Regions from separate parts of the Homo sapiens genome. Here regions 2, 3 and 4 are each linked to region 1. The links come from fine-mapping of genetic effects on plasma protein levels. Region 1 holds a variant in brackets. A gene starts in each other region. All regions are shown on their forward strands.

What was found. A credible set is the group of variants that fine-mapping cannot tell apart. PIP is the chance, under the fine-mapping model, that this variant and not a neighbour inherited with it causes the effect. Protein levels are from antibody-based Olink assays in UK Biobank. Linkage for the fine-mapping came from a reference panel and not from the study's own genotypes, which makes the PIPs less certain.
Region 2: it holds the start of FCRL1, and the variant in region 1 is the best candidate, but not a certain one, in a credible set for the plasma level of the FCRL1 protein (UK Biobank, PIP 0.58).
Region 3: TNFRSF9 starts here. The variant in region 1 is the best candidate, but not a certain one, in a credible set for the plasma level of the TNFRSF9 protein (UK Biobank, PIP 0.60).
Region 4: CR2 starts here. The variant in region 1 is the best candidate, but not a certain one, in a credible set for the plasma level of the CR2 protein (UK Biobank, PIP 0.70).

The regions. Positions count from the first base shown.
Region 1 is chr13:108,304,341-108,312,992 of GRCh38, forward strand. It overlaps TNFSF13B (TNF superfamily member 13b), which reads left to right. Exons shown (of 6, transcript NM_006573.5): 6 at 2,486-4,138. The coding sequence ends at 2,598. Among named protein-coding and RNA genes, the nearest start is that of TNFSF13B, 39 kb to the left of the region's middle. The variant T/A (reference allele first, on the strand shown) is at 3,697.
Region 2 is chr1:157,818,552-157,822,551 of GRCh38, forward strand. It overlaps FCRL1 (Fc receptor like 1), which reads right to left and starts at 1,569. Exons shown (of 11, transcript NM_052938.5): 1 at 1,456-1,569. The coding sequence starts at 1,486.
Region 3 is chr1:7,938,617-7,946,460 of GRCh38, forward strand. It overlaps TNFRSF9 (TNF receptor superfamily member 9), which reads right to left and starts at 2,223. Exons shown (of 8, transcript NM_001561.6): 1 at 2,168-2,223; 2 at 1,279-1,462; 3 at 105-212. The coding sequence starts at 1,378. RefSeq lists a silencer at 3,927-4,066.
Region 4 is chr1:207,447,555-207,455,499 of GRCh38, forward strand. It overlaps CR2 (complement C3d receptor 2), which reads left to right and starts at 6,774. Exons shown (of 20, transcript NM_001006658.3): 1 at 6,774-6,922. The coding sequence starts at 6,865. RefSeq lists silencers at 6,613-6,842, 7,223-7,332.

The sequences.
Region 1 (8,652 bases):
TAGCCACAAGTATTGACAATTCAGATGACATCTTGTGTCAGTGGACACCAGACAGGTGACTTAGGAATGCGAAAGTGTAGGCGCAAACCTACCTTTGCACCCAGGAGCAGTGAGAGGCAGAGAGCACGGCAGATCTTGTAAACTTTAGGTCTGTTTCAGCTGTAATTGCCAACATTTCCTTCATTTTATTTTTCAAGGGTGATTTAAAATTAATCCAGGCTGGTTTTGCAGAAAAATATTTACCTTAAACACATTTATTTTCTCTGTTGATTTTGTAAAAATCCAGAACCCTGAGGAATGGCTTCAGTTCCAGATGGTTACCGTGAATGACCGTGTGACACACAGGAACGGAGGCTGGCTATGCATTTTGAAAAACTGTATTTCAAAGGCATTTACAAACAAATGCCCAATAAGTCAGTTAGAAACTAAGGAAAATAGTTTCTAATAATGGAAATGATGTCATTCTGGATCTGCAGCCACAGATAGCATTGGTGGGGAGATGAGGAAGTTTATAAAATTAGAATTCCCTAACTTTCATAAAGAGATGTTTCCCTTCACCCAGTGCTGACTAGTAGTTTGGAGTTGCAAAATATTTATAAATGGTGAGACTACTCCAATCTGTTATTTATTTATATTTATTAGTACTAAAAATTTTACAAGTAACTCTTTAAAACGTTTTTCTAATCATCTGCTCCTCTAACACTTACTTGCTGTTAGAGGACTCTGCTAGATTTCTTAAGGTGTCTTACTTTTTAAGAATAATTCACCGGACTTTAAAAATATTTTTCATTACTAGTAGCTTACTGTTGTATATGAGTACCATCCTCTAGTAAGTTTCAGGTTTGCAATTTTAATCTGTTTTAGGGCAAATTTATTTAAAGCCATTTAAAACCACACATTAGAGTATATATAAGTACATAAAATGTTTCCATAGCAACCTGAAAAGATGTAAATGGCCAACTTAAGAAACCCAACATAATACCAAAGAACCACTTATATACCTAAAGCTGAATCTTATTATTTATTGTATTAATAAAATGTTTATTAGAAAAATTATACCTGATTGCTGTAATCTGGAAGAATTGAAGTAGCCGATAATTTAGTGTTAAAATGTTAAATGGACTCTATAGTTGTTCACACCCACCTAATCCTTAGAGTTAATATTACTTAATGCTTTGTGAGCTATGGTCTTTGTCAAAATGTTAGGTCATTTCCAATCTCTATGAAAATGACAAGTCTGTTCAACAAATAAATCTCAATCTTTTTATTCTTACTACTTAAGGTAGTCCTCAAAGGCTTTGTCAATTCTAGAAAGTGTACACATAACCTTTAATAAGTCCTGAAAAACTTTCTTTTGCTTGTATTCTGTCTTTGCCCATTACAAAAAAGCATACCCAGTGGGGATGGAAATTCTGTCATCCTTGATCACTACTGTGTGTTTGTCTAGAAGGGTGGCTGGTACATAGTAAATGTTCAATAAATAAACTCCCCCTGGCTGCTGCCTGAGCAAATTTGCATGCTTTGGGCTTTAGGTTAGAATAGACATGAACATACATGTGTTTATGTAGGTACATTTTCACTATGCTAATGAAACAATGAAACTATTCTAAAAATAGCCACAAGTATTGACAATTCAGATGACAGTTTTAATGTTTGTTAGTTTCTTTATTTCTTCTCTTCCCCCATTTCCTCCTCTTTCTTCTTCATATTTTTGTTTTGAAGTGGGGTAAATAATTACCTGATACATTGAGTGTAGTCCCTGAATGTATTTTGTATTACTAATTCACAGATGCATTTGTCCTTGTAAATTAGTTGCACACAGATTTATTAGTCATTTTTGAAGAGTTAATTACACTGTTGTTTTTGATTATAAAGACAAACATGGTCATCTAAGAAAACAAAATATAAGAGGTTGTGAAAAGTAATCCAGATAATGCTTAAATCCATAGTCGGGACTCTCAAGAAAAACTATATTAATGAATGTGGTATGTTAAGAAATGGTGTTTTCTTCAGTTTTTAATATTTATGCTTTTCATTTGTATGTTTAAAACTATAATTAGGAATATCTAGTATATATATGTGTGTGTAATTTTTCACATTTTTATTTAACATTATTATAAAAACTTTCCCTGTCAACAAAATTAAACAAAACTCATCACTAATAATTTAATATTCTATCAAGGGATGTTCCATGATTTACCTAATTGTTTAAAAAGTTATATATTGGGCTTCTTTTGGGGAAGTCCATTTTTTAATGAGTAGGTGATAAATGCATACATATCTGTTGTAACTCCTTTTGCTTATTTCTTCTAAATTTTTTTTTAGGCTAAGATAATTGCAATGGTTTAGAAGTCCGTTGGTGTATTTTGAAGTGTGAATGCCTATGTTAACATTTTTTTTTTACAGAACAAAATAGTTTTATTTAAGATTCTTTTCTTTTCTGTTGTATAACCACTTATAGTTCTTGTAAATCATTTTTTCCCAGGCATTGCAAAACTGGAAGAAGGAGATGAACTCCAACTTGCAATACCAAGAGAAAATGCACAAATATCACTGGATGGAGATGTCACATTTTTTGGTGCATTGAAACTGCTGTGACCTACTTACACCATGTCTGTAGCTATTTTCCTCCCTTTCTCTGTACCTCTAAGAAGAAAGAATCTAACTGAAAATACCAAAAAAAAAAAAAAAAAAAAAAAAAAAAAAAGTAGTTACCATTGCCTTTTCTGTGAGCTATTTGTTTTGGTTTGCTGAAACTAGTCCAAAACAGGAAATTTAACAGACAGCCACAGCCAAAGAGTGTCATGTGAATTACAAGAAATAGAGCCCATTTAGGGAAAGATAGAACTAGAAAGGCTTTTCATTATAATTCCATGTTGAACAATTGAGTCATAGCTTCTTATCTTGGAGGAAGGACACAATTCAAAGGGGCAGTAAGGATTTTGTAAAACGTGGCATCCATAATTTACTATGGAGCAAGTGCCCACATCTCTAGGACATTAAGACATTTATGAGAAATCTCAGGATTCATCTTCTGTTTTTATGTTAAATGCACTCCCTCCTTTTCAGTTAACATTATAAAAAGTAAAAAATGAAAATTTTAGAAATCTTGCATTAGACACATGAAAAAATAACTAAAAGTTTAAATTTAAATATGAAACAATTTTGCTGAAAATAGTATCCATATACTATTTAAGTCTTTTATGGTTATTTCAAGTATACAATTTCTATCTGTAATGTAATATATTACCCACACATTTTTTTCACAGGAGAGAGAGAATATCCTCATTTGTTTATGCTCATGTGTATTTTCTATAGTGAATTTCAGAAACTTTTAATATCAGGTAATTTCAATTTATGCCTATAAAGCATTGATTGAAAAATAACTAGAATTGTGCATATATAACACATAATCTCCAACAGAAGTTACTGAATACATTCATACTAATGTAATGTAATTTCCCTTTATTTCTTGCTCTTCTGTTTCAAACTGCTGCTATTGTAGTTTACATATCCCAACCTTTAAAAATATTCCTCTTATTAGCTTTATATTCACTTTATAGAAGTTGAGTTTTAATTAAAATTCTTGGCATCCTGAAGTATGTCACATAGCATGTGCTCCTTATAAATATGTTGATATCTCAGAAGACAGCATCCCGGTTTTCATTTTATAAAGTACCATACTTAAGAATGCTG[T/A]AATACTTATCTTTTATAACATGTTTCCTTCGCTTTGCTTGTCTTTTATGTCATCAGTTTTAACTGTTTACTTCATTTAACAGTTTACATCATTCAACAGTTTACTTCATTAAACAGTAGGTGGAAAAATAGATGCCAGTCTATGAAAATCTTCCCATCTATATCAAAATACTTTTCAAGGATATACTTTTCAAAACAAACGATTTAAATTTTATGTTTAAAATATAAACTTTAGATTTAAACTTTATTTAAATATCTGGTTCCTATGATTTTGACTTCAGTAAGTTCAAATAAAATATATTTTGCAATTCATTTTTACATTATAATTTAAAAAGAAGAAGCGATAAGTGGAGTCAGTTTCAATGCTAGGTGGGGTGGTTAATGATTTTTCTGGTGTTGCTGCTAATGTGGATTAACAAATAAAAACATTCATTGCCTTTTGCCTCATTGTCTGACTGAGTTTGTCTAGCAACACCCACCTTTTGAATTCTCGCTGTATAATTAAATGTTATTTTTAAAATCAGGTGAAACATGATAAATTAATTTGTGTTAGGATATGATAGTTTGGAAATGTGAGTATGTTCCATATCTGAAAAAGAATCTGTTCACATCTGTATCTGTCTAACTACCTAATTTTAAACTTTTTAGAACCGACATCAATTATGTTATTACCTTTAGAGTTGAATTTATCCAACAGTACAGTATATTTTGTGAGATTTTTAGTACAATATTAAGTATATATTATTGGTATAATATCAAGTATTTATATATTACTTATAATATTAAGTAGATGTATAACTGAGAAAAGCTAATAGCAGGCCAAGCATTCTTCTCCTAAGGAGCTGACTATGAGGTGGTGAAATTCCACCAGGACAAGCATCTTGTAGGGATCACGAAAGGCATCATTGAGGGCAATCTTGTTGGCAGCAACCTCATTACATCTTGGGCCCGACCCCCACTCTGCTGTAATTAGAAGGTTGTATTAGTCTGTTTTCACACTGCTGATAAAGGCTTACTCAAGATTGGGTAATTTATAGAGAAAAAAGGTTTAATGGACTCACAGATCCACATAGCTGGGGAGGCCTCATAATCACAGTAGAAGGCAAAAGGCACATCTTACATGGTGGCAGGCAAAGAGTGAATGAGAGCCAAGTGGAGGAGGAAACCCCTTATAAAACCATCAGATCTCATGAGACTTATCACTACCACAGGACAATATGGGGGAAACGGTCCCCATGATTCAATTATCTCCCACCAGGTCCCTCCCACAACACATGGGAATTATGGGAGCTACAATTCAAGATGGGATTTGGGTGGGGACACAGCCAAACCACATCAAAGGTGCAGTGGAGAATTCATAATCCTCACCATTTGAGGTTTGATGATGGTGATGAAGACAACAGGTGGGATTATAGATATAAGAGAAGGGAGGAAATTCTTTACCGTTGAGTTAATCACTTTACATGTTTTTAAAACTTTTTGACTTTTTGTTTTGAAGTAATTTCAGACTTTTAAAAATATGGGAAAGAAAAGTGTAATGAAACCCCTTATATTCTTCACTTATATTCCTAGTGTTAACATCTTACAGCACAAGGGTAAAAGTCAAGACACTAACATTAATACAGCAACTAATGCACAGACCCTTTGAAGACTGACCACATGCTAAGTTATAAAGCAAGATTCAGCACATTTTAAATAGTTGGCTTTATAACAATTACAGTTCCTCTACAGCATCATTAGTAAAAGAAATTGGTGATTAAAAAGTAAGGAAAATATGCACGTGGAAATTAAAGTGGAGAGAAATTACTTCTAAATAATTTATGGCTTAAACAGAAAGCATATGGAAATTAGAAAATGTTTACAACTAGATGACAAAATACTTCACAAGAAACCCTGGGGTGTAGGAAAATCAGTGCATACATAGAGTTTATAAACTTAAATGCTTATATTATATAAGAAAAATGACTGAAAGTTATGAACTAAGCACCAACAGCAAGAAAAAAACAAAAGCAAGACAAAACAAAAGCAAGGTAAAAACAAAATAAACAAAAAAACCTAAGCCAAAGGAATAGAAGAAAGCAATTAAGGATAAGAGCAGAAATTCAGAAACTGGAAAAGGCAGGTAATTAAAAAGGTCAATAAGACCAAAAAATTTATATAGAGGTAAATAAATATAAATATAGACATAAACAAACGTAATGATACTTTTATCATAAAAATAAAGTATTTTTATTTTATCATATTTAAACCTCAAAGTTTCTTGTGAAATATTTCATTATCAATATTTTCAAACAAAAATACAGCAAGCCAGCATAAACAATATTAGAATTGAATATGGGGAGAAAAGTATAGATGCCAAAGAGAAAAATGAAAAAAAAAACGTTTTGTCAAAAAACTTCAGCAAATTAGATGAGAGACAAATTCCTAGATAAATATAAATTGACAAAACTGATCAGTATAAAAGAGACAAAAATGAATCCGTTAGAGACGTTGAAGTAGTTTACAATTTACACATACAAAAATGGTCAGGCCAAGATGGGAAAATTTTCTCAAATATTCAAGGGGTAGACTACTTCTATATTATGTAAATTATTTTAGAGAACAAGAAAAAGAGAATACTCCCAAGTTCAACTTGTATTTTCCTCTATAATCTTGATACCAAAACATTCTGAAGGCAGAATTACAAGTAAAAATTACAAGCCAATCTTACTCATAAATATGTCTTAAAACATTAGCGAATTGAACTCAGCAGTGTATTTAAAAAGAGCATGCATAATAACCATGTTAGATTTGATCCATATGCGAAAATTTATATTAATAACAGATGTAAGTGATTATAACAAAATATTAAAGGAGAATATCATATGATCACCTCAGTAAATCCAAGAAAGAAAGAACAATTCAATATTTATCTATGGTAAACACTTTTAGCAAAGTGAGAATAAAGAAAACTTTAAAAATCTTGTGAACTTGGCAACCAGAACAAGATAATTATCCCTGGATTATTATTACCACTTCTATATTATACTGAAGGGTCTAGACATTTTAACATTTATTCAAATAATATTTATTGAATGTCTAATATTTACGAGGCAATATTCCTGGTAATTATTTAGTGGGAAGGGGGCAAAAAAAAAAAAAAAAAAAGCAGAACATATGGTTTGCTAGATGGTAACAAATACTATGGAGTCCAATCAAGTAGCAGACATAAGGCATTACTGGAAGAAGATGTGGTGCATACTTTAATAACAATCACGAATATTTATTAGGTATTTATATTGTGTGAGAGACTCTTCTAGGTGTTAATTTATTTCAATTTTCCAGCAACTCCAAAATATCAAGCCACTATTAATTTCCTTATTTCATAGATGAGAGTTATTTCATAAACTCAGTTTATTTCATAGACTTATTTCATAAACTCAGAGTCTACATAAATTGGCTGTTTGCTGTAAATGGCAAGGCAAGATGTGAACTCAGGTCCTTTATTTGTAAGTCCTTCAACCTCAGCACTATGTCATACAGCCTTCAGTCAGGGAAGGCCTCACTGAAGAAGGGCATGGAGAGGGTAATGTAAGTGATATGGTTTTGCTGTGTCCCCACCCAAATCTCATCTTGAATTCCCATGTGTTGTGGTAGATAATTGAATGAGAGACAATTGAATCATGGAGGTGGGTCTTTCCCATGCTGTTCTTGTGATAGTGAATTAGTCTCTCGAGACCTGATTATTTTAAAAAGAGGAGTTCCTCTGCACACACTCTCTCTCTCTTTGCCTGCTGCCATCCATGTAAGACGTAACTTGCTCCTCTTTGCCTTCTGCCATGATTGTGAGGCTTCCTCAGCCATGTGGAACTGTAAGTCTAATTAAAACCCTTTCTTTTGTAAATTGCCCAGTCTTGCGTATGTCTTTATCAGCAGCATGAAAACGGACTAATACAGTAAGATTTATGGGGAAGAGTATTTGAGAGAGAGGAAATGGAAAGCAAAATCCCTTCAGTGTGTTTGTGGAGCACAGTGGTCCCAGGATGCCTGGACAGCAGTGATCCATGGAGAAAGTAGAAGATGAAGCTAGAGAGTTAAGGAGGGGAGGGCACTGAGCCTGCAAGAACTTGCTGTGCATTGGGAGGGAATTGCTTTTAGTCTGAGTGAGAAAAGAAACCCTAGAAATTTCTGAGCAGAGAAGTGATGTGATCTGACTTACTTGTAAAAGAACCACTTTGGATTCTGTACTGTTTAGTCTACACGGGAGAATGGGTGAAAGCAGGAGACTAACAGGGGTCTGTAGCCATAATCCAGGCAAGGAATCATGGTAGCTTTGACTAGAGTGGCCGAATTGTGTGTTCTGTGTTGAATGAAATATTCAAGGATAATATCACATGATCACTTCAGCAGATCCAGGAGGCAAAAAGTACAATTTAATATTTACTTACGGTAAACACTTTCAACAAAGCGGGAATGAATAAAACTTTTTAAATCTAATAAAATTTGCAACCAGGAAAAGATAATTATCACTGGATGATTATTACCACTTCTACATTTTCCCCAAATATTTGCTCAAGTCCCAACTCCTGGTACCTGTAAAGGTGACCTTATTTGGAAATAAGGCCTTTGCAGATGTAGTTAAGATGTAACTTAAGTGAAGTCATACTGGAGTAGGGTGGGCCCCTAAATCTAATGTCTGTTGTTTTCATAACAGGAGGAGAAGAAACAGAGACATGCACACAGGGAGAAGGCCATGTGAGTATTAAGGCAGAGATGAGAGAGGTGCTTTTACCAGCCAAGAAACACCAAGGATTGCTGGCAACAACCAAATGCTAAAAGAGGCAAGGAAAGATTCTCACCTAGATCTTTCTGAGTAAGCAAAGACCTCCCGATACCTTGGCCTCAGACTTCTACCTTCCAGAACAGTGAGAAGTACTTGTTTTCAACCACCCAGTTTGTGACACTTTGTTATGGCAG
Region 2 (4,000 bases), not on the chromosome of region 1:
ACAGTTAGATATGGGGTGTGTGTCCAGAATAGACAAATATAGAGAGACAGAAAGTAGATAATGATTGCATGTGGCCAGAAAATAGAGGGGTGAGGATAGGTGAGGCGTTGGAAAAAAAATTGGGGATGCCTGCTAGTGGGTATGGCGTTCTTTCTTGGGTGATGAAAACATTCTGAAATTGATTGTGGTGATAGTTGCACCACTCAGTGATTGTCATAAAAAACCATTGGATTGCATAACTTAAATGGTGAATTGTATTATATGTGAATAATATTTCAATAAAGCTGTTTTTAATAAAAGATACTGTAGCATGTTTGTATACTTATGGGAATAATTTAGAATGAAGAAACATATTGATGATGGAGCAAACTTTTTGAGAAAGTAAGAGGGTCATGGGCCTAATGCACAAGTGGAGAGTCTTGTCATCAACAAGATGAGGGGCAATATATTCGTGGTAGGGGAAGAGAAGGCAGTGTATGTGAATGCAGAGGTGAGTAGGTCAACAGCAACAGAAAGATGAGAGAGTTTTCTTCTGACTGCTTTTATTTTCTCAATGAAATATGAAGCAAGATTACACAATGAGAGTGAACAGAGAAGTATGAGGTGACAGGATAAGGTATGCAATAGTGATAATGGAGCAACATGGACTGTGAACATGTAGGATAATTGCCTGGCATTGCTGTTGGCTACCTGAGATTTGGGGGTCCTACACTTAAAAGGGGATAAGTCATCAGGGTTGTGCATTTAAAAAAAAATCCCATTCAGCTGTTTATGTCCAGGAGTGAAGCATGCAGAAGGGCGTGTAAACCAGGAGAGTGCTATGGGGGAAGAGAGATGAAGGTGTGCTCGAGGGAGTGTTGTGGTGGTGAGCTGCAGAATCTGAGCTGAGCACCATGAGAAGTGAGCACATGAAGTGTAGTTACTGATAATGGAAAAGTAGCCCTGGGGTAATTGAAGTCATGTTGGAAATAGAGTGCAGGAGAAAGTGAGCTAGAAACACAACTTAGTGGGGGTGGGGGATGTATGCTGAAAACAAAGGAGTGATGATAAGTTCTAAGGTTTGACTGTGGGAATGGGGAGTCAGAGAGGGATAAAAGGAAATAACGTTGGTAGTAAGAAGGGCAAGGAATTCAGAGGCCTATTTATTATACAGATTTTTCTTTTGGCAGCTGTTGAAAACACTGAGAACAAAGACAATTATTGATGGAAAGGAAGACAGACAGTGAACACTTCCTATGAGATAAAAACTGAAATGATAGTTTTCTTGAAAACTCTGGCTTTTTGAAATATCTACAACTTTTTGCCTGACTCTGAGCCCTCCGTGGAAGTGGAGATCTGAGCACCCCTGAGCATTACCTGACAGAACCTTAGTCCTAAGAAGTCCTTACAGCCCTTCAGGAAGCAGAGCCCAAGCATGATTGCATCCCATGCCCTGCTCTGAGTTGCCCAACTCACCACAGATCAACAGCAACAGCCTCGGCAGCATGAGGACCAGGTCAGGGATGGTACCTAGAGATGCCTCTCATCAAAAAAAGAATGCACCTCAGAGTCGAGCAGCAGCAGCTCATCAGAGGTTTGAGGAAGTTGATATCGGAAGTTACCCTTCAGCAGAAGTAGAAGGAAGAAGAACCCTCTAGTGACCAGTCTCCATTTCCTTTTCTATGAAGTCTGAGAAAATTAAAGATGCTCCTTTTTAAATATAGTTTGATTCAGTTCCACAAGCTGCAGATAGTACACATCAATATTTGAGGGACTTTTTCAAGAATTCAGGTATTTCAAAGGAAGTTTTCTAAAGGCAGTTTCCTACTTTGATGAGTCTCATCAGGTTATGGTCCTGCTGAAATTCATCTTTGATACATCTACAATACTTTTCACCTTTGATAGGGATGTCTCCTGGATTGTTTCTAATTGGCACATTCTTCTTGCTCAGCAATATAGTCCCACTATGCAAACTTTCTCTAGTATAGTCATATTATGCAAACATGTCATTAAATCAGGGACTGATGGGGCTGTCACCCCGGTTATGTGTAGTGTCTGACCCTTGCTGCATATGATGACTTATGTACAGGGTCAACCTATTCATACAGATATACGCTTTGATATTCAAACTTTCAGTGTACCAGTAAATGAGCATGAAATCACTGAAAAATAAAATCACGGCAAATTACAATCTGGGGGATATTTGAAAATGAAATACAGAAAAGAAGTATATGCAAATTAGCTTCAGGGCACTTGAGAAGGGTTCACCATTAGTACTAACTCTGGCATTTGTAAAATTGCCCCTCTTTTCCCTCAAAATCAGGGCACCTATAATCTCTCCCATTGCTACCTTTAGCACATTAGGGATACCAGTTCTAGGCAAGTGAAGCCTAGATTAGGGATTGGAGGAGAATAAGCTATCTTAATTTTCAACATTTCTTAAATCCGTGAGTGTCTAGGATTAAGAATAACTAGAATGTGTGGAAAGTAACCTATTAGGGGAAAGATGCTGTCAGGCAATGATGTCTAAGTCCAGGTATCCAGCTCAATGAGTATGACTGAGAAAAGAAACTATTCAGTGATACGCAAAACCAGAGGGAAAAGGGAGCAATGTTGGTAACCAGGCTAACAGCGAAAGTGCTGAAAACGAATAGGTATTCCATAGCTTTATTTATTGGCTTAGGAAAGCCTGTGTGGGGATAAGCTTGTTTAGTGTAAAGTTTCAGGACCAATGCAAAAAAATCTCCTGAATGAGAATGTAGAGCCCTTTAAATCCAGGGTGTAAAGCTGTTTTTGCATACACTCTGCTGTTTCATCTCTCTCTTTTTCTTTTAATCTGTTGGTTTTTTTAATGTTTTAATTGACACATTGTAATTGTACATATTTATGGGGCACAGTTTGACATTGCAATATAATACATATATATGTTGTACAGTGATGATCAAATCAGGGTGGTTGGCATATCCATTGTCTCGTGCAGTTTTCATTTCTATGTGGTGAGAACATTCAAAAGCCTCTTTCCTAGCTATTTTGTAATATATAATACCTTACTAGTAACCATAGTTACCCTACTGTGCAATAAAACACCAAACCTTATTCCTCCTATCGAATTGGCACCTTGTACCTGTTGACCAATCTTTCCCTCTCTTCCCTCCTCATTCCCTCCTCAGTCTCTGATAGATGCTATTCTATGCTATACTTCCATAATATCAACTTCTTATTTTTTTCAGATTCCACATATAAGTAAGTTCATGTGGTATTTGTCTTTCTGTGTCTGGCTTGGTTCACTTAACATGATGTCCTCCAGCTTCATCATGTTGTCACAAATGACAGGATTTCATTTTGTATGGCTGAATGGTATTCCGTTGTATATATACACCACATTTTCTTTATGGATTCATCTGTTGTTGGGGTCTTAGGTTGATTCTCATCACATCTCTTCCTGTGTGTCCTGCTCCAGTGCCTTCACAAGATGTTCAGATTAAAATGTGTTTCCTCCTCCACAGATATAAAGGCTATAACATTTTATTTGTTAAGCTCTCTCACACTTTTATTTTTATAATGTGATAGTTCATGCATGCATACAAAAAAGTAACATGAATATAAATTATGAAATACTACGATGAAATGAAAAGCCATGAGCCTATCCCCAGACTGTTTTAAGAACTTGAACATAAGGCGGGCGGATCACGAGGTCAGGAGATCGAGACCATCCTGGCTAACACAGTGAAACCCCGTCTCTACTAAAAAACACAAAAAATTAGCCGGGCGTGGTGGCGGGCGCCTGTAGTCCCAGCTGCGCGGGAGGCTGAGGCAGGAGAATGGCGTGAACCCGGGAGGCGGAGCTTGCAGTGAGCCGAGATCGCGCCACTGCACTCCAGCCTGGGTGACAGAGCGAGACTCCGTCTCAAAAAAAAAAAAAAAAAAAAAAAAAAAAAAAAAGAACTTGAACATAACATGATACTATTACATCTACTTGAGTGTGCCTTTTCTAACCCACTCCTCGTGTACTCTCCAGAAG
Region 3 (7,844 bases), not on the chromosome of region 1:
CTTTGACACTTGAGATTTTCAAAAGAGAGCAGTTAGTAAATGGGAAAGAAAAGCTTATCTTCCCAACTATCTTCTAGAAGAAGAAAATATCTTTGAACTCATACCTTTACACTGCCTGCATATGTCACAGGTCCTTTGTCCACCTGCGCTGGAGAAACTATTTGGAGGACAGGGACTGCAAATCTGATTCCTGTTATTATCACAGAATGTACCTAAGAAAGGCAGACAATAGTGGTACACGTTTGACAATGGGCAATCGTCACCCAAGGCATTCCGAAGTTTACAATAAAATAAGATTATAAAAGAATGATGAGTTTTCTAGATGCCACAGTGGTGGACATTAGTTTGATTGACTTCCTAAAACAATACATTTGCAAGATTATTCTTTGTGTAATCACAGAATTAGAAATAACAAAATACAGGCCAGGTGCAGTGGCTCACGCCTGTAATCACAGCACTTTGGGAGGCCGAAGCGGGCAGATCACCTGAGGTCAGCAGTTCAAGACCAGCTTGGCCAACATGGTGAAATCCTGTCTCTACTAAAAATACAAAAATTAGCCAGGCGCAGTGGTGCACACCTGTAATCCCAGCTACTCGGGAGGCTGAGGCAGGAGAATTGCTTGAACCTGGGAGGCCAAGGTTGCAGTGAGCTGAGATCGTGCCACTGCACTCCAGCCTGGGCGACAGAGTGAGACTGTGTCTCAAAAAAAAAAAAAAAAACATACACACACAAAAAAAACAAAAAAACCAGATATTGTAACAAATAAATCAACAGAAAGAAAATACTTTATCTATTGAATAAAACAAAATGATTATCTTGATTGATGTAGGAGATGAATATGACTGGATCCAGGAGGACATCAATGTCCTACACTAAAATTTAAATGCGACTGACCGTCCCCACTCTGTTAAGCCCTTTACTACGCGCTTACTCGCTGCTATGCCCCCAGTCGGAGCACAAAGCCCTACACACAAAACTAACATTTATTGAAGTCTTGCCTTGTGCCATGCACTGTTCTAAGCCCTTCATTTGATCCTCCCAGCCATCCTATAAAACAGGTTCTCTTATTATCCCCAGATGAGAAAGTCAAGGCACAAGAGGTTGAATGACTTTGCTGTGTTCACACAGCTAGGTTGTAGCATCCAATAAACATTTGTAAATGAATGAATTTTCATTTTCCTTTCCTTAAAAGGGAGCTCGTTAGCCCTGACTACTAGACTAACTGAACCATACTTCCAACAGAGCAGATCAAATGCACATGATAACTGGGTACTCACCAGCTGGGCAGTTACTACAAGGATCCTGCAATGATCTTGTCCTCTCAAAGTTGAGGACCAGCAACAGAGTGGCTACTATGTTGTAACAGCTGTTTCCCATGATGAAATCTGGCACAGGTATGATACTAGCAAAGCTGATTCCAAGAGAATTTTAATCAAATTAGCTGGTCTCACAAATGTCACTCTGCAAAAGATAAACATTTCCAAGGAAAGGTGGTTTCTCCTTTCAAAATTATCTATATTGCAATCATTACTTATACAATTCTATAAGAGGATAACTCAGGGTTTTTCAGGAACAATTAATGATGCAATATTACGGAAAAGTAGCAGATTCATAGAAACCACTAGGACAAGGCAGGCGTGATTAAACACACAGCTTTGTGCCGGTTTGCCAAAGTTTGAGGGTGCATTTTCCATCATGTTCTGCCAAAATGCAGAAATAACAATAGCAAGAACTTTTGGGGACTTTCATAGGTACTTTGCAGTACCAACCAGCAATAATGCCAATTACTTATTGCCCCTGAAATAAACTCCTTACAAAGAGAATCTGTCAGGGGCATCAGACAATTCAGTTCAAGAAGAAGCTATCACATAATCACTCTTCCCCCTTTAGCTGAACACCTAACTACTAACATGTGGAAAGACCTCCCTGTTCAACTCACTAACACATTTTCTTAAACAGAGACATGTTTTGAGATGTGAAGTTTGTATGGTAACAAAACTAAGGAGTGAAAAACTCTTCAGGCTAAGTTATTGATGTTTATTTAAAGGGCTATTGAAGAGAAGTTATTACATATTAGGAGAAAAAGTCTAGAAATGGGCAAAGGGAGCAAAAGTTCCAATCTCACCCCTTCTCAGTGCCCCCACCCACTCCCCCAGATGGACAGACCTTGAGATCTCAGGGCTGCCGGAGAACTTTCCACTCCTTGGTCTTCAGGCTTCTGCAGCTCGAGAGGACTTCAGGTCAAACACAGGAGTGCGGTGACTCAGCCAGGGGCGGGGTCTCATGGGAAATTCCCACCACAGCTCTGTGACAGCCCTATGAAATCATTCATTTCATATCTGCTGACCCCGAAATCCCCTAGAGCCCCCGTCCCTGCCTGATAATGGCACTTCAAATTGCTTCTTGGAAGCAGCTCTCTACTGTCAGGATGTGTCACAGATGACGCTGGGAAAACGATTTTGTCCCTTAAGATAGCTCTCCAGGACAAAGCATTTAGCATGTCCTTAAAACACTGGATTTGAGATTAGAGGAATGAAACCAAATTCAAAACAGTGATCAGCATTTTGCCATATGCGGTCCCCTAACTCCATAGTCACTGTAATGCAATAGCTGCCATTACTTGAGCACAGCCGATGTGCCAGGCATCAGAGATGCACTGCGGTGAATACACACTATCCTCGAAAGAACCCTAGAACTTGGTATGACTGCTGTTGTTACTGGGAGAACACTATGCAAATGAGGAAAGTGGGGCTGCAAGTGGAATTAGAGCGTCAACAGGACAGGGAGCAGGCAGGGTTGGAACCCAGGTCGGCCTGGTCCCTTATCGTGCTCCTCCGGGCATGGGTGACAGAGGGAGGAAGGAGGGAGAAATGGAGGGAAATGGAAACAGGGGAAGCACAGCAGTCACACGGCAAGTCAATGACCAGGACGTGGTTCGGTGAAGCTGAGAGCTAGGAGGGATTTTTAGAAAACCATGATTTCAATTTTTCTTTAAAAAAAAAAAAAGGAGAAAGAGACCAGGCGCGGTGACTCATGCCTGTAATCCCAACACTTGGGAGGCCGAGGTGGATGGATCATCTGAGGTCAGGAGTTTGACACTAGACTGTCCAACATGGCAAAAACCTGTCTCTACTAAAATTACAAAAATTAGCAGGGAATGGTGGCGGTGGACCCCTTTAATCCCAGCTACTGAGGCTGAGGCAGGAGAATCGCTTGAACCTGGGAAGTAGAGGTTGCAGTGAGCCGAGATTGCGCCACTGCACTCCAGCCACAAAAAAAAAAAAAAAAAGAAGAAGAAGAAGAAGAAGAGGAAGAGGAGGGCAGAGAAAGCAGAAGGAAAAAAAAGTACAGTAAGAGGAGAGGAGGAGTATAAGGAGAAAGAAGAGGGAGAAGAGGAGGAGGAGGAGAAAAATAAAGAGAAAAGGAGGAGGAGGAGGAAGAAGAAAAGAACAGAAAGAGAAGGGGAAGAGGAAGAGGAGAAGGAAGAATGAGGAGGAGAAAGAATGAGACGGAAGAATGAGGAGAAGGAAGAGTGAGGAGGAGAAAGAATGAGAAGGAAGAATGAGGAGAAGGAAAAAGGGGTGTTTCTGGAGGAGGAGGAGGAGGAGGAGGAGGAGGAGGAGGCGGCTGCTCCAGGCTGTAGATGAACCTGCCCATCATTGAGCAGCTGGAGAACCTCAGGAAAACCAGGGGAACTGTGGCTGGGGCAGGCGTGGGCTGGGGAAGGACATCGAGAGTAGCTTGGGCCGTCCTCCTGCCCCGCGGTTCCCAGCACGAGCTCTCCCGACAGAAGAGGAAAACGCGGCGCGACTCGGTTGGGGGACAGCGCTGAGATGCGGACAGATGCGGACGTTCTGCCGCCGCCTGCAGGCAGAGGGACTCGGAGATCAGGCCGCAGAAGCAGAAGAAGGCAGACGGGAAGGAGGAGGAAGGAAAGGAGCCTTGTGGCTTCGTGTCCGACCCTCCCGCCCTTGGCCCGCGTGCCTGGAGCCAGCCCCACCGCGCCCGCGTTTCCTCCCGCGGGACTTCCCTTGGCCCTGGGTCTGCAGCGGGTCCTGCCGAGCTTCCTTCCCTCAGGCAGCCTCTCTCTCCCTGGCCACTCTCGGGGGTGAGGGGGGTTACCGGTTCCCAGTGATTTTTATTCCCTTTGCTCTCTCACGCCTCATGTTCCCCATTCTCCTGCCTCAGTTGTGTAATCTTGAGCAAATTTCTCAACCTCCCTAACTCTGTTTTTGCAAGCACATCTTACAGGTGCAGTGACACCATACATCTTCCTCGTGAGTGAGGATTAAATGAGACGATGAGCATGAAATACTTAGCTCAATGCTTGGCACATAGTTCTCAAGAAAGTAGGAATTGCTATGATCAGACTTACTGGTTTGAAATGTTCCTTCCCTGCCTCCCACACTGACCATCAGTAGAGCCACCACAGGGCAAGTCATGACAGAAAAGGAGAAAAACGCATGAGCTGCCTGCAAAATGTGTTCCCAAATACTGACGGTCATCTGAGAGTTATCTTACCTGTGACATCTGTGGGATCCCTCCTTGCCCCACTTTGGCAGAAATTGGCTGAATGTGAGAGTGTCACACCATAAAAATCGGACTGCTGATCCCCTCCTAACACTTTGAAAGTCACCATCTAACCAAGTAATCTCCTTGTTTACATGTGGTACTCTGTTTAACATTGCAGTGTGACATTTAACTGGGCCATATTTCATTTAACTAAATGCTACTCACTAGTCTACGTTTTGGACATTCTGTAGGCAGAGACATTACTTCCTCTGAAAGTGACATATTTAGTTTCCCAGCACAGTAATTAGCTCACTATTTCAGGCTTTTATGCCAGTAACATAAGAGTCTTTACTGAGCTAAAAGAGTCTCAACATTAGTTTTGCCAGCCCACAGTTAAACAAAGTCAACCACTTCAGAATTCTGCTACTGAAGGCTATGCTCAACTTTACTCAGGCGTTTAAAAAATTCATGGCTGGGAACAGTGGCTCACACCTGTAATCTCAGCACTTAGGGAGGCTGAGGCAGGAGGATCGCTTGAGCCCAAGAGTTCAAGATGACCTGGACAAGATGCCCAGACCCTGTCTCTACAAAAAATACAAAAATTAGCTGGGTGTGGTGGCATGTGCCTGTGGTTCTAACTACTTGGGAGGCTGGGATGGGAGGATTGCTTGAGCCTGGGAGGTCGAGGTTGCAGTCAGCCATGTTTGCACCTGTGCACTCCAGCCTGAGCAACAAAACTAGACTGTCTCAAAAAAAAAAAAAAAAAGAATTCATGTTACTGCATGCATTTTTGTGTGGTATAAAATCATCGTAGTAAGCTAAGTCAAATTATATAGTTAACCAGATATACATACTATCTAAGCTAGCCAAAGGTGTAATACTCTTTTGGTATAATTTTCATTTGCTTTATAACATGTATCATATTGCTTTATCCATTGTAGCCCTGTAATCTTTCAAATGCAACAAAAGCTTTTTCTATTCCATAAAACCATCTCAAACTAAATCAGAGATGACCCCGACAAGACAGCAACACTTTAGCAGTATTAATAATATTAATAATATGTTTCATCCATCCTAAGCAGTATTAATAATCTGTTTCATCACATCCTAAGCATCTCATTCTAAACCAAGAAATAGGCCGGGTGCAGTGGCTCATGCCTATAATCCCAGCACTTTGGGAGGCTGAGGTGGGAGGATCACAAGGTCAGGAGATCGAGACCATCCTGGCTAACATGGTGAAACCCCATCTCTACTAAAAATACAAAAAAAAATTAGCAAGGCGTTGTGGCAGGTGCCTGTAGTCCCAGCTACTCTGGAGGCTGAGGCAGGAGAATGGCGTGAACCCGGGACACGGAGCTTGCAGTGAGCCCAGATCGTGCCACTGCACTCCAGCCTGGGCGACAGGGCGAGACTCCATCTCAAAAAAATAAATAAATAAATAAAATAAAAAAAAAATAAATAAATAAATAAACCAAGAAATAGATTTTATTTCATTTTGATTGACTATAGGTCTAATCTTGAATATCTCAAGCAGCTAAATACTTTGAGGCTAAATAGCATGAAGGCCCAACAATTCTAAACAGGATAAAGGAGACATTTAGAAAGAGAAAGCCCTCAAAATAAGCTTCCTATAAAATATTCTTCCGCCCTTCCAGGGCGCATCTTAGAGGGAATCTCTTCCGTGGGATATTCACTGTTTACACTTGTTTTCTGCCTGAAAGATCTATTCTTTCAAGATTCAGTGTCGCCACCCCTACTCCAAACACCCAAACTAGTAGTCACTATTAGACATACCTGGTGCTTGTGATGTCAGTAGGTGTTCTGAGGCCTGGGAAGGAGTAAATTGTTTTTAAACTTGGAACAAAGAAAATGAGCAGGAAATCAAAGAGGAAGGAGGCAGAGTAAGGAGAAGGAAGTACGAATCATAAGGAGAGGCGGGTGTCAGCAGCCATCGACTTTGCTCACCTTTCCTCCTTGTTCTGCCCTTTCTCCAGGTGGCATCCACTCATATGCTAAGGCTTATCAATAGTTGTCTCCAACTTCAGACCACCCCCAACACTGTGCAGTCCCCAGGACAAGAGTACAAACAGAGGCCTGCTTACCATGTGTCCAAATATTTAGAAATTGTTCATCAATCCAAATACGCTGTTAAGTATGTTCTGTCCAGAGCAGAGACACAAACACACAAACACAATGAACACAGAGCTGCGTCTGTGACTGGGTGTCTGGCGCACGGTGCTGGCATAGGGATGCATTAACTCGGCTCCATCTGCTCTCTGGACCCACACTGCCAGGCCTGGGTGAAGACTCCCCCACATCCCTGGATCCATGTCCTTGAAACTCCATTTGAGGGTGACACCGTGCTGTGAGAGTTGTGAGCTGTGCTGTTGCCTCCAAGAACGGCAGGGAGGGTGTGAGCCATAGAAGTACCAGGCAGACAAAAGGCAAGTAGATTTGTCAAATCCATCTCAGATACCAAGGGTGTAACAGATTCTTGTATAATCTATTATTATGCAAGAATATCACAGACAGTGGTATTTCCCTACAGTCCCAAGTATCCTTTTTTTTTTTTTTTTTGAGACAGGGTCTCACTCTGTCACCCAGGCTGTAGTGCAGTGGTGCAATCTTGGCTCACTGCAGCTTCTGCCTCCAGGGTTCAAGGGATTCTTCTGCCTCAGCCTCCCGAGTAACTGGGACTACAGGTGCGCACCACCTTGCCCAGCTAAGTTTTATATTTTTTTGTAGAAAGGGGTTTTGCCATGTTGCTCAGGCTGGTTATCCACTTGCTTGATCCAATTTATGGCCCACTTGGTGGTTTTGGAAGTTCTTGTATATTGCCATGGAATTCACAGCAGTTATGCACAAAGTCTGAGGAAGACTTTGTAATATTAAACAATTCATATTATTCTTGAATATGCACATATGTAATATGTAGAATAAGAACTGCAGCATTAATTCTTTACTAGAATCACCTAGGACTGAGACCCAGAATGACAATTTCAATTTTTATAAAAATATTTAAAACAATTTAAATTTCAAAAGATTAAAAATCTCAGTTCTTTAATAAAAATAAGTTTTAAATATTTGATATTTATCCACTATAATTTGTTTTTAATTCTAATACTTTTGGAACTTTTAGAAAAATGAAAAAACGAATGTAAAAACAAATTTAAAATTTTACATACTCAAATTCACACATTATATTAAATACATACAAATGCTGTATATGTTAAGTACAATTATATTTTATTTCTTAATCCTTTAAGTCATTACTGTCCAAACACAAATTATGCGAAATTATCTATTGTAACAAATGAAATGAAAGCAAAAA
Region 4 (7,945 bases), not on the chromosome of region 1:
TATAGATAGATAGGCAGGATGGATGGACAGATAGGATAGATAGATCGATCTAAACACACACACACACACACATACACACACACACACACACACACGTATTTCAGCACTTAGGGTTGTTTTCAGTGGAATAATTCATCCAGTTAACCTAGGACATAACATTACTGAAAATAGAATTCCATTCTTTTACCCATTTTAATTGGTATATCGTTCCTATGGGTATGTAGCAGTTCTTCACATGTTCTACATAACAGTCTCCTTTTTAGTTATATGTATTGCAGATGACTTATGTCTTATGTAAGTCATGTGGTTGTGCTCTTGTAATAATATATTTTAACAAATGAAGTTTTTAGTGTTAATATACTTGAATCCATCAAACTTTTCCTTTATCATTTGCATTTTCATGTCTATTATAAGAAATATTTCCTTACCCCAAGGTCATAAAAGTACTCTCATATATAGGTTCTTCTACATTTTTTAATGTCTTACCTTTCATGTTTAAGCCATCATCCATTGGGAATAGAATTAATATGTATGAGGTTTGGATTGATTTTATTATTCCATTATATGTAATGAATTGTCCCCAAATTATTTGTTGAATAGTCTCTCTCATCTTTCACCAGCAATCTTCAGCACTACCCATGCCATGAAGCTACTTTCTATATATGAGGTCTTTCTCTTTTTTCTTATTAATCTATTTTTCTACTCATTCATCAATACCACACTATCCTAAATATTAAGAATTTAGGTCTTGATACCTACTAGAACAAGTATCAGGAAGTGTCACTTTTACTGTTTGTGTCCCTTTGCTATGATGTATTTTAGAACGACATTGTCAGGTTCCTTTAAAAATGTTAAATTTTGACAAAAATTGCATTGACTATACATTTGATCAGTTTGTAGAGAGCTCATATATTTTTTAATCAAGTTGTCCTATACATGAATGTGCTTATTTCTTGATTTATTTAGGTCACATTCACTTTACCTGAATAAAATGTTATAATTTTCTCCATAAAGATTCTTCAACTATTCTGTTAGATTTATTCCTATTACGCACTTTTAGTAAGCATCCTCTTCTTAAGATTTAAAATGAGCTCAGTTTAAAACAAAATGCTTCTAATATTTTACCATAAGGAAAGATATTTGCTGCAGGTATTTTTTGCAAATATCTTTATAGGGCTAAGGGAACTCTTTTCTATTTCTCTGTAGTTTAAAGGGCTTTTAAAAATCGGTTAAATTTTATTAAATCTTTTTTTTTTTTTTTTTTTTTTTGAGATGCAGTCTTGCTCTGTCGCCCAGGCTGGAGTGCAGTGGTGCAATCTCGGCTCACTGCAAGCTCCGCCTCCCGGCTTCACGCCATTCTCCTGCCTCAGCCTCCCAAGTAGCTGGGACTACAGGAGCCCGCCACCATGCCCGGCTAATTTTTTGTATTTTTAGTAGAGATGGTATTTCACCGTGTTATCCTGGATGGTCTCGATCTCCTGACCTCATGATCCGCCCGCCTGGGCCTCCCAAAGTGCTGGGATTACAGCCGTGAGCCACTGCACCCGGCCAAATCTTTTATGAGTTTATGTTTGTGGTAGATTTTAATCTGTTGAAAACTATCTTTGTAATCCTAGCACTTTGAGGACATGGCAGGAGGATTGCTTGAGGCCAGGAGTTTGAGACCAGCCTGGGCAACAAGGGAAACCCTGTCTCTACAGAAATCTTTAAAAATAGCCATGCATGGTGGCATGTGCCTGTAGTCCCAGCTACTGTGGTGAGGCAAGAGGATCACTTGAGCCCAGGAGTTCGAGGCTGCAGTGAGCTATGATAGTGATACTGCACTCCAGCCTGGGCAACACAGCAAGATACTGTCTCTAACAAAACAATACAAAAAAACTGAAGGATGGTTCCTCTGAAGAAGAATGTGTTTCCTTCAGTTAGAAGCCAGAGGACCACAACAGCACTCGGCTTAATTCAAGTATCTTAAGTCAAATTGCCTACCTTGTGCAACTCCCTGCATATAAAGCTTAGTCAATTGTAGTAAAAATTAACACAGGACAACCTCCTTTGTGTACACCTACAAATCACTGCTCCAATTTTAGTTCCATTTACCTTTTTTTCAAAATTGTCCCCATTGGCACCAACATGTATGTACTCTGGATTTTGTTTATTATAAACAACTACAAAATCCTTTTGATGTATGTCTAATGTCTTAAGCATATTACAGGATGAAAACTCTGTGCAGAATCCCCATTTTCTCATGAGATTTGTGTATTTATTCATTCAAAAAATTTCTATGAAGTGTCTACCATGGATCAGGCAATATTCATGGAACTAGGGGGCTCGAACATAGAGAAACAGACAGACAAAAAAACAAAATATTTCCTTCATGGATCTTACATTGTAAGAGAGACAAACACAAATGAGGTCATTGTAAAATATATAATGTGTTCAATGGAGCTAAGTAGTAAGAGAAGAAAAATAGACCAAAGAAGGGGATATGAATGGAAAGGGAGGTAAAAGTGTAAGAGGATATCTAGGAAAGATCTCACTGAGAAGGTATCTTCGAGTAAAGACTAGAATGAAATGAGGGAGCTGGCCACTGGGGCTATTCAGGAGAAAAACAATCTGGACAGAGCAAACAAGACCCTCCGAGGGCAAAGGACCCCAGTCAGAGTGCAAAGAATACTAGAGCAGCAAAGGCCATTGTGGCCAGAGGGAGAAAAGAAGGAGAAAAGGGTCAAAGATGAACTCAGAGAAGTTAAAGGAAAGCAGATCACATTGGACTGAATGGATCATAGTTATGACATTGCCTTCTACTTTGAATGAGATAGGAAATTATTGGAGGGTTTGGAGCAGAAGGCAGTGATTTCTTTTTTCCTGACAAACATGTAAACAGGATCACTGCAAGATACTAGACACCAACACACTCATCTACAGAGGAGTTGAGTTTTTGTGTTGCTGAGAAGTGTTTATTAATAAAAATATATTTGGGAAATTTATGAGGGCAGACAAGAATAAGCATGAAAAGAATCATGAATCTAACTGTAAAATAAATGAAACAATACACGTGCAAGAAGAAAACATGGATGAATTATTGTGTAACCTGGAGAATGGTTTTTAAAACCATGGCTCCTAATCCAGATGCAATAAAAGAAAAGATTTATCAACTTGACTGCATTAAAACAGACAATGCTTACAAGGCAAAACGATGCCATAAACAAAGTCAAAAGACAACTGACAAACTGGGAGGAAACATTTGCAAAACACATCCAGAATAACAATCCTAATATATATAAATAAGTCTCAAACATTGAGAGAGGAAAAGGCAAATATACATGATAAAAATATATTTTATAAATGTTCAGCGTTACTCATAGGGAATGCAAATTAAAGCTACACTGAGATAAAATGTCTCATTTATTAGACTGACTAAAATTTAAAACCATGATGACAGCACATTAGATTAATGAGGTGCTCTCACACAGTTTTGTAGGAATATATGTGGTACAACTCTTATTAAGGAAATTTGGCAATATCTAACAAACCTACATATGTGTTTACCATTTGACCCAGCAATCCCACTTCTAGGAATTTGAACTGAAGACATGCTTCTAACAGCAGAAAAATAAATATTCACAAAGTTACTCTTTAGAGCATTAAAAACAACCAAACTGTCCATACATAGGGAGATGGTTGAATAAACTATGGCATATCCACACAGTGAAGTATTGCATGCAACTGTAAAAATGAATGAGGAATATTTGAATTTGTAGGAAATAGTGGATTCCAGCATATTTGTTAAGTTAAAAAAGAAATGTGCAAAAGAATACCTATAGCATGCTTTTAAAATGTAATAAAAAAGGAGAACTAAGAAGACAAATGTGTAGCAGCTCATTTGAGCAAAACTAAGGACAAACCAGAAACTACTGAAATTGAGTACCTATGGTGGAGAGGATAGAGGTGATGGAGAGAAGTGACATTTCCCTTTTATTGTGTCTTTTTATATCAATCTGACATTTGGGACTACGTTAATGTTTTATTTAAGCAAAAAAAAATCAAAAAGATTGAGGGGAAACTAAAATAGAATACAAAGAGAAACAAATTAACAGTATTTTGAATGAATAACAATCACACTGAAGAGGGGGAATAATCTGAGTAACTTTGGAACACAACAATGCTGTTTTTATATTTTCGGGCTATAAACAAAATAAAACTTTAAAAACGAGTAGATTTGATTTCCATCATAGTATAGAAATAGCAATTTTAAACTTCTTTCTGTGTATTCTAGGATTAAGCAAATAAGTAAATATATTGTGGATCTAGGTGTCTCACTGTTGAAGAAGGGAGTTACACATGCAGAAAGAGGGAAGGACAGAATGAACTCTATGCTAACGGACTGAAATTGGAAGAATCACTGTGAATTCATGACATATATAAATATAGATATGGGAATGGATATACATATATATATATAATACATATCCTTGCTCTGTCTGCTGAGAGGGTGCGGAAACAATGATACTCCAATAAAAATGAACACACTTAGCATCCAATTCTGGCATCTAAATGCCATTCTCTGCCAGAAAGAACCAGCATTCCTTGGAGAAACAGCAAATTCCAGTGTCAGGTCTAGAGGTGAGTCTGGAGCATTTTTTTTTGTGTGTGTGCCAGAAAGTAAGGAAGTGCTCAAAGAACAATAAGAACAAGTCAAAATGACATAGGAACTATTTTGAGGGCTCCCACTGGCCCGATCAGGGAGAATTTAAGCATCAAAATAAATAATGGTAGCCATGAATTATGACCCATTGAGTAAATAAATAAAATTCATATTGATATAGTTTATGCTGATATAGATAAATGAATAAATAAATAGAGAAGGGAAAACTTTTATTTACAGTAAAATGCCAACAGATGAATATAGAAGTAATTATTAAATTAGGAAAAAACACCCTTTGACAACCATCATAGTAAAAATTGATTCAAGAAAGGATCATCAATAGACGCTAAAATTTGTGGGTAAAAATTTGATGAAAAAATGAGGAATTTACATAGTTTTAAAGTATCTCCCTATAAAATACTTATTAATTACAAAGGGAAAAATACTGAGTCTACACTAAGAAACATGGCAGGCACCATCTTAACTAAGTGATCAAAGTTACCACCACCAGTAATAGGACAAATAGACAACATATGCCTCCCCGTAAGGATAAGACATCCTTTCTGGTATTCCTGTCAAATAATTAGATTCAATAACCTGAATCTATCATGAAGAAATGATAGACAAATCCAAATTGTGGGGTGTGATCCTGTCTCCTGACATTACCATCCACGTATACTGCCCTCCTACACTGAAAAGGGCTGATCTGTACAATCAATTGGATATTCTGGAGTTAACATATTGTGATTTCTGAGGACAGGTCACAAAGGACATTATGGCTTCTTCTTTCTTGTTCTCAGAGACGCTAGCTGGCATGTCACGAGGACACTCAACACACAAGCAGCGAGCCCTATGGCAAAATCCACGTGGTGAAGAATGAAGCTTCCAGCCAAAGGCTGGTAAGTGAGCCATCTTAGATGTGGATTCGCCTATCCCAGTTAACCCTTCAGATGACTGCACCTCCAGCTGGTGTCTTAACTGCAATCTCCTGAGCGATCCCAAGCCAGAACCACCTGACCGACCCACAGAAACTGTGAGATCATAAATGTTTATTCTTGCTTTACACCACTACCTTCAGGGTAATTTGTTATTATAATAGATAACGGACTTAAAAGTCATTCTCCAAAAATAATTGTGGTGTATTCGTCAAAAATGTAAAGGTCATGCAATACCAAAAATGCTGAGGACATTTTTCCAGAATAAAGAACTGGGGGTGGGGGGAAGGCATAATGATCAAACACAATACATGATCCTGAAATGATTCTGGACCAGGAAAAACAAAGGTTGGTTTCTATTGTTGTTATTGTTTTTACCATAACACAGGTTATTGAGATGATTGTCAAAATTTAAATACAGATGGTAGCTTATAGTCTTGTGTCAATGTTAAGTTCTTATTTTTGATCATTGCACTCTAGTTATGGAACAGAAAGTCCTTAGTGAACCATTTAGAATAGGAATAAATGCTAGATGGTTCCAAAGTAATAATTATATAATTATAATTATATAATCACATATATGTACATATATGTCTATAGAGAAAGAATAGAGAATGGTAAAGAAAATACAGCAAAATGTTAACATGCAGAGAATCTGGGTGACAAGTATATGGGAATTCTCTGCAGTACTCTTGAAACTTTTCTGTAGAGATTACTTCAAAATAAAGAACAGAGCAGAAGTGGCTGCTGTTCCTAAATTCCCTAAGTAAACTTACACTGCTTTTTCAAACTGGGAGATGAATCCACTAATAGGTTTTGAAATGAGTTTGGTGGATTTCTAATAAGAATAGGATAGCCTAGCCTAGTCTAGCATAACACAGCATGGCACAGAGGACGAACATTGTAGATTACTAAGGGTGAGTACTAACTTGTGAAAGTTTTGTTTAAGTTCTAGTAAGAGAAACAAGTGAGTGTAGTGGGTTGCGTGGTCAAAAAAGTGGGGAAGCCACCGCAACGAGGGGTGAGTCTGAGCCAAAGAGTGGCTCAGAGCTCCCCGCCCACCTCGTGCCGGGCCGTCCCTCCCGCTTGTCCCACCCTCACCGGCGCCGCGTCAGCCCCCAGGCCGCCTGCAGGTGTGCGCTCAGAACTAGCACGTGTGCCGGACACTATTTAAGGGCCCGCCTCTCCTGGCTCACAGCTGCTTGCTGCTCCAGCCTTGCCCTCCCAGAGCTGCCGGACGCTCGCGGGTCTCGGAACGCATCCCGCCGCGGGGGCTTCGGCCGTGGCATGGGCGCCGCGGGCCTGCTCGGGGTTTTCTTGGCTCTCGTCGCACCGGGGGTCCTCGGTGAGCTGGGAGGGGGAGCACGGAGGTGGGGACGCGTCCCGGGCAGGGAAAGTTTCTGTGCCGCGATGCAAAGCAGGGGGCCAAAAGCGAGACGGTGGGGGCAGTGCTCGACGCGTGTCCGCCTCCCGCTAGCTTTGAGGGACCACTGCAATAAACCGCCTGGTCCTGATTGTCCCCACTGGCCCCTCCGGGAGCTGGGACCTCCAGAATTGGAGGCTGCGCCACAGAGGGGCGCTGTCTGGTCGGCCCGGTGTGGCTGGCGGCGTGCGGGTGCTCGCGGTCTCCTGCCGGGCTCCCCGCCCCCAGGATTCTGCAGGTGCTCATCGCTCTCTGGCCGGCGGTCAGCGCTACCGCTCGCCACGGGAAACCTACCCACTGCATGAGGCACCAGCTAGCCACGTGAGGCTGTTTCTGTACACCCGAACCGCGCTCTTGCCCAGCAAAAGCGGCAGAACCTCGGCTCCCTTCCCTAAATAAGAGTAAGACCTGGTTCCCAAGCATGGGTCTCAGATTTTCTGAACTCTAATGTGATATTGGTAGAGATCCTAAACATTAACCATCCGTAGTTATTTTTGAGACATGGATTAAAACTATTGTTTTCTTCTTGTTATTAACCTACTGTAATGGTGTGGACGTCCGCAAAGGTCTCATTCACCGTTTATTATATCTTTTTTTCCTCCAGATTGGCTTGATTTTAAAGAAAGATTATAATTAAGATTAGCGTCTCTTGGCTACAGGATGGGTCTAAGTTTCTAATTATCTCCACGGTACCGTGCATTCCTAGTTTATAAGACGTTTACTGTGTGCAGACCTCAATAACTGGGTGACTTTTGGCAAGTCATTTAGCTCCCTGATCTTCAGTTTCTTCATCTGTAAAATGAAACTAGTGATTAACTGGCCTTCCACCTCACTGAGCTGCCCTGAGCACAGATGAAACTAAGCAAAGAAAGTTGGATGTTAGTCGTTACTACTAAATATCAGTAATAAGCCTCCTGTACAGACTTGATTTTATGGAGCCAGCAT